Regions from separate parts of the Homo sapiens genome. Here region 2 is reported to be linked to region 1. Evidence: microRNA targets listed by miRTarBase, many of them from high-throughput screens and not tested one by one. Region 1 holds a microRNA gene; the other region holds the end of a gene's coding sequence.
Evidence for each region. The annotated mature microRNA hsa-miR-6785-5p reads UGGGAGGGCGUGGAUGAUGGUG and lies in region 1 at 2,260-2,281, shown strand. An mRNA with a match to its seed (bases 2 to 7 or 8) in the 3' UTR can be bound and repressed. Matches are read on the target gene's strand: a 7mer-m8 pairs with bases 2 to 8, a 7mer-A1 pairs with bases 2 to 7 and ends in A, and an 8mer does both.

Region 2: the mRNA of SPAST is a reported target of hsa-miR-6785-5p. Seed matches in the 3' UTR shown: 7mer-A1 at 1,144-1,150 and 7mer-A1 at 979-985.

The regions. Positions count from the first base shown.
Region 1 is chr17:75,496,294-75,499,477 of GRCh38, forward strand. MIR6785 (microRNA 6785) reads left to right here and starts at 2,255; the gene lies at 2,255-2,335. TMEM94 (transmembrane protein 94) reads left to right here. Exons shown (of 32, transcript NM_014738.6): 24 at 1-178; 25 at 437-514; 26 at 820-905; 27 at 1,488-1,569; 28 at 1,882-2,030; 29 at 2,151-2,245; 30 at 2,336-2,429; 31 at 2,619-2,789; 32 at 2,969-3,184. The coding sequence ends at 3,041.
Region 2 is chr2:32,154,276-32,157,275 of GRCh38, reverse strand. It overlaps SPAST (spastin), which reads right to left. Exons shown (of 17, transcript NM_014946.4): 17 at 1-2,902. The coding sequence ends at 2,780. Among named protein-coding and RNA genes, the nearest start is that of SLC30A6-DT, 10 kb to the left of the region's middle.

The sequences.
Region 1 (3,184 bases):
TCCCCTGTACCCATCCCGTTGCTCCTGGGAGACCTTTGGCTACGCCACCAGCATCAGCATGGCCCAGGCCTCGGATGGCCTTTCTCCCCTGCAGCTGTCAGGGCAGCTCAACAGCCTGCCCTGTTCCCTGACCTTTCGCCAGGAGGAGACCATCAGCATCATCCGGCTTATCGAACAGGTGGGTGCTTCGGCAGGCAAAGGAGGAGAGACGCAGGACAGGACCCGCCTGGGGTGGGAGTAGCAGCAAAGGACCTGTTTGAACCCGGGGACCTCATTCCCCAGCCCTCCGAGCGGGCTCTCCCAGGCAGTTACATTCGCCTCTGCTCCCCTCGTAGAAGCATCCTGGGCGTCTGGCTCTTGGCTAAAGTGTGTCAGCTGTTGGGCCTGGGAGAGGCCAGGTAGACCCAGGCCATAATCTGTCCCTCTTGGTCCCTAGGCTCGGCATGCCACCTATGGCATCCGTAAGTGCTTCCTCTTCCTGCTGCAGTGCCAGCTGACTCTTGTGGTCATCCAGGTGAGGTGGGGCCCGCACAGGCATTGCCCCCGTGCCACTCACCCCTTCACTCAGGGGCCAGCTGAAAATCTGAGGAAGGAGGCTGGGGTTAGCAGTACAGTCAAGGGGTCCCCCCAGAGCCTCTGTGAAGCCCCTGGGCTTTTTGAGCTGACCCTCATTGGCAGAAGAGTATTCCCTCCGGCCCCTGTTCCCTCTGGCAGGATGTGAGCATCTATCTGGGCCCAGGGCAAGGGAGCTCGGGGGCTCCTATGCCCTTATTATTTGCCTGAATTGAACTGTGGCTCTTGGCTTCTTTCCTGGTCTAGTTCCTTTCTTGCCTGGTCCAGCTGCCGCCACTCCTGAGTACCACCGACATCCTGTGGCTGTCCTGCTTTTGCTACCCTCTGCTCAGGTGAGATGCCATGTATCTTCCCCACACCCCATGCCTAAGCAGGAGGTGTCTGGATGTCACTGTGCAGCCCCAGGAGCCCAAGGTTCTGGAACTGCTCAGGTCTCACCTCCTCTGGTACAGGAGGCATGGAGGGAACCCCCTTTGTCTTTTTTTTTTTTTTTTTTTTTTTTTTTGAGATGGAGTCTCGCTCTGTCACCCAGGCTGGAGTGCAATGGTGCAATCTCTGCTCATTGCAACCTCCGCCTCCCGGGCTCAAGTGATTCTCCTGCCTCAGCCCCCTGAGTAGCTGGGATTACAGGCACCCACTATCATGCCTGGCTAATTTTTGTATTTTTAGTAGAGATGGGTTTTTGCCATGTTGGCGAGGCTGGTTTTGAACTCCTGACCTCAAATGATCTGCCCATCTCAGCCTCCCAAAGTGCTGGGATTACAGGTGTGAGCCACTGCCGTCCAGCCTTTGTTTTATTCCATCCCCTCACCAGACTCGACCTCACGCGCAAGACTCCCTAGAGGTTCCCTCTATGAGAATTGAGGGACAGAGGGTCATTGTCACCATCCCTCTACCTGATCTCTGCTTTTCAGCATCTCTCTGCTGGGGAAGCCCCCCCATAGCTCCATCATGTCTATGGCAACGGGGAAAAACCTCCAGTCCATTCCCAAGAAGGTAAGCAAAACAGACCCTGTGAGCCTTGCAAGTGAGCATGGAAGGGACTGAGGATTGGGGGAGGAGAGAGGGGCTAATCTGGAAGGCTCTGGATGGGGGATTCCAGCAGAACTCCGGCACTTGGTTCCTAGTCTTCCCCCAGATCAAAGAGGAGGTAGTGGCACAGAGCTGGGAAAGACCCTTGCTGGGGCTTGAGCTCCCTATCCCCCCAGGCCTGACCATTTACTAAGAGCCCGTTGAATACGTGGAAGAGCTAGGAGCAGCCGGCAGAGGGGCTGTGCGCCCCAGGAGTGACTGGCCTTGTTCCCGCAGACCCAGCACTACTTCCTGCTCTGCTTCCTGCTCAAGTTCAGCCTCACCATCAGCTCCTGCCTCATCTGCTTTGGCTTCACACTGCAGAGCTTCTGTGACAGCTCCCGGGACCGCAACCTCACCAACTGCTCCTCCGTCATGCTGCCCAGGTGGGTCCCAGCCCCAGAGATCCACCCATCGCCTGCCTCGCCTCGAGGCTTCCTCCCTCCCCACCCCAGCCTACCTCCCTGCGGCCCTAGAGGGGCTGAGCCCATGCCTCACTTTGGCAGCAACGACGACAGGGCTCCAGCCTGGTTTGAGGACTTTGCCAATGGACTGCTGTCGGCTCAGAAGCTCACGGCCGCCCTGATTGTCCTGCACACTGGTGAGAGGGCTCCCTGGGAGGGCGTGGATGATGGTGGGAGAGGAGCCCCACTGTGGAAGTCTGACCCCCACATCGCCCCACCTTCCCCAGTCTTCATTTCCATCACCCATGTGCATCGCACCAAGCCCCTGTGGAGAAAGAGCCCCTTGACCAACCTCTGGTGGGCCGTGACAGTGCCTGTGGTGTGAGTATTGCTAGGATGGAGGGCGGAGTGTGGGCTGGGGAGGAGAGGGCCTTCTGCAGGGCTAGGATCGGAGGGCGGGACCGGGGCCAGTGGTTTAACTGTACCCTGCCTGAGCTAACTGTTGTACTGGGAAGAGCAGGGAAGGAAGCAAGCAGTGTCGGGTTCACACGGGGCCGCCACCTCCTGCAGGCTGCTGGGTCAGGTGGTCCAGACGGCTGTGGACCTGCAGCTGTGGACACACAGGGACAGCCACGTCCACTTTGGCCTGGAGGACGTGCCCCTGCTGACATGGCTCCTGGGCTGCCTGTCCCTGGTCCTTGTGGTGGTGACCAATGAGATCGTGAAGCTACATGAGATTCGGTGAGCTGTCAGCAGGGCGCCTCCCTCTGGGCTCAGGCATGTTCCCTAAACCTGTTACTCCCTTGGCGACACTCCCCCACCTTTCCGCTGCCCATCCCTCCCTCCTCCTCTGGTGTCCTGCCCCGGCCCCTGGTCTAAGGATCTTTGCCAACCTGTACTTTAATCTCCTGCCCCACCAGGGTCCGAGTCCGCTACCAGAAGCGACAGAAGCTGCAGTTTGAAACTAAGCTGGGCATGAACTCTCCCTTCTGAGCCACTGGCTGTGGTGGCTGTAGTTGCCCCCGTCCCTGGGGCTAAAGCCAGACCCATTTCTGAACAGGGGAGTTTGTATCATGAATGTTTCCAGGTTTGCTCCTGCACCCGTGGCACTGGAAACCCAGCTCCCCGTGTCAGAC
Region 2 (3,000 bases), not on the chromosome of region 1:
CCTTAAGATATCTGGAAAGATAGTACTCATTCTTTCCCTTGGCTCAAAGTCCAATATATCAGTAAGTTTTAATTTAGTTTACAAAACTCTGCCATATTAACATGAAGAGCACACTAATGCTTAATGTTTAAGCATTATCTTTTAGGAAGTAATACAACACAGAGCTCAACACCGAATCTAAAAGGTCACAATCTAAGTCATTATTAATTCAGAAAACTTCAGCAACTTCTATCTTTATTGAAAAAGACCAAACCAATCCCTTATCTCCTACTATATCATTACTCTATTTTCATGGCCCTTCTATCAAAGAAACAGCTTAAAATAAAACTTGGTTAGAGTTAAGTCATAGAAAATAGTTCTCTAGCACTAGCTGAAGTTCAGACTTGATCAGGAAAGCAACTTCTATACAGTAATGATTTTCTGACTCAGTGTTTAAGATAGTATTAACCTGACTTTTATCTCTTTTAACATTTGAAATCTTTGTTATCTAAAAGTCTTTCCCAATAGAATTATAACCATGATAGTTTTAAAGGAGACAATATATTAAAAGTTGAGCTGGAACCACATAGTCCTTTAATATGATTAGCCAGTTATCCAAGTATCAATAACGTTAATCTTTTAAATGAAAACAATGAAATTTTATGAGCTTAACTGAAATGTCTTAATTTAGAACTTCTCAATTCTTTTCATCATATATATTTCATTACTACCTTTCGTTATCAGTATTTCATAATTGATGTTGTAATGTTTGAGACCTTAAAGGGATACTACCCATCACCTAACATATGCATAGCTCTGGCTTGAAAAAAATTTTTTTTCCCCTATTTATCTCAACTCTCATTTTTATTATTCAGGGAGTTCCAAAGTCATGATTGGAAGAGACATGATTTACCTTATGGCTACAAACAGCATATGATCCTAAGAAATCATGCATCTTCTGGCTGGGCGCAGTGGCTTATGCCTGTAATCCCAGCACTTTGGGAGGCCGAGGCAGGCGGATCACCTGAGGTCAGGAGTTCAAGACCAGCCTGACCAACATGGAGAAACCCCATCTCTACTAAAAATACAAAATTAGCTGGGGTAGTGGCGCATGCCTGTAATCCCAGCTACTCGGGAGGCTGAGGCAGGAGAATTGCTTGAACCTGGGAGGCGGAGGTTGTGGTGAGTCGAGATTGCGCCATTGCACTCCAGCCTGGGCAACAAGAGCGAAACTCTGTCTCAAAAAAAAAAAAAAACCCAGAAATCATGCATCTTCTATATTCAAACAAATCTTTAACAAGAGCAAGAGTAAAATTAAGAAGAATGTATGTCTTCATTATAAAGTTCTTACCTAGTAGGGGCAAGTTTTTTATTTTAATGTATTCTTTCAAAACCTAAGAAATCTTTCCTAAATGAAAAATTCTTGTTACTACTACAAATATTCTTTCCACTCATGACATTTTACATAGCATCATTTAAGCACCAGAGAAAAGTTCTGTAAACAAACTTTTAACCAGTAAACTAAGGGCAAATATCTATTTGCCTTTATTACAATATTTAAAAGGCCATGATATGAGTCTCTACTCCCTACAATGACATTTTTATAATGAAAATCCAGGCATATTTATACAAACAAATGGAATTACTGTACATTTTGGGAGAACAAAAGGCAGATCAACAGACTAGAACTAGAACTTTTGAGTTAATAAAGCAAGCAGAAGGAACTAGAAAAATGTATGCCATGTATAAAAATTCAGTTTTTTTAAAGTTTCATTGAAGGGATTAATAATTATTAAGAATAAAAGATGGTAGTTCCACTTGCTTATAATTATCCTGTAAAATTAAGAAAGTAATAAGCAATAAATTAGAAATGTCTTAGTTCCTAGTATTTCCCTTCTCTTGCACTGGAAACATTTTCACAGCAGTTAAAATTGGCTCTCTTAAATATCAGAATAATTCTTGCAGAAAATAAATTCCATCAGGAAGAAGTTAACAGTCTACAACAGATTTCTGACAAATACATTAGAAAAAAAAATACTGCAGGTCACATGAAGACTGATCTACATGTTATATGACAGAGTAACTCAAACCTTCAAACCTTCTCTATTTTACCATATTTGCTTTTTTGCTATTATATTGCTATCTAAACTGTTTGGTAGCAAGGTAATAGAAAAATAAAAGGTAAAAAGAACACAACAATTGTTTAATGTCTGTAGATTTATGAAGAAGAAACTCTCAAAATAAACTTTTTCCTATTACAGTTACTTAGGAAAAAAGTTTCATTTGGCACACTGAATTTATAAAACGAAAAAAGAAAATAAACTTAAGAGTGTTTGGCATTCCAATCACCTGTAGTTAAGACAACAGTAGAAAAGAAAAGTAGGAGAAATTACTATTTTAAGAAAAAACATCAGAAGACAAACAAACAAATGTTCTTGTGTCTTCTACCATTCACTGTTCCTGGAATACTTTCATCTGCAACACAATATACAAATTATTATTTACATTATGATTATATTGGTAAAGAAGACCAGAATCAGGTTTTGTTGTGCTCTAACTTAGTGTCCATTGGGATAACTGTGACCATCAAGGCAAGGCCTTAAACAACAAAAAATTACATTTGCATTGTATATTTTGTTTAAGTCTGTTTTCTGGTTCATCTTCAAGTTTGGTGCACAAATATGTAAGACTCTAAAAAGTCCTGTAAACTTAGGCTGTTTCTGTAGCCGATGACGTTCATTGAAGATCTTGTGTTTCCTCTTTTAAGTAAAATGTTCTGCAGGTTTACAAAGGTATTTCCTTAAACAGTGGTATCTCCAAAGTCCTTGTTCCAACGTATGTACGCTTCTAAAGTTTGAGGGCTGACGCTGCGTTTTATTTTTTTCAAGGATTCAGTGAAGTCAGATAATCGAATATTTCTCATCTAGATTTTTAAAAAGCACATGACAATACAAATGATCAACAGGTATATGGTGGTTAACGAAATGATGGATTAAAGTAATGATGCTGCTGTTTCTTAAT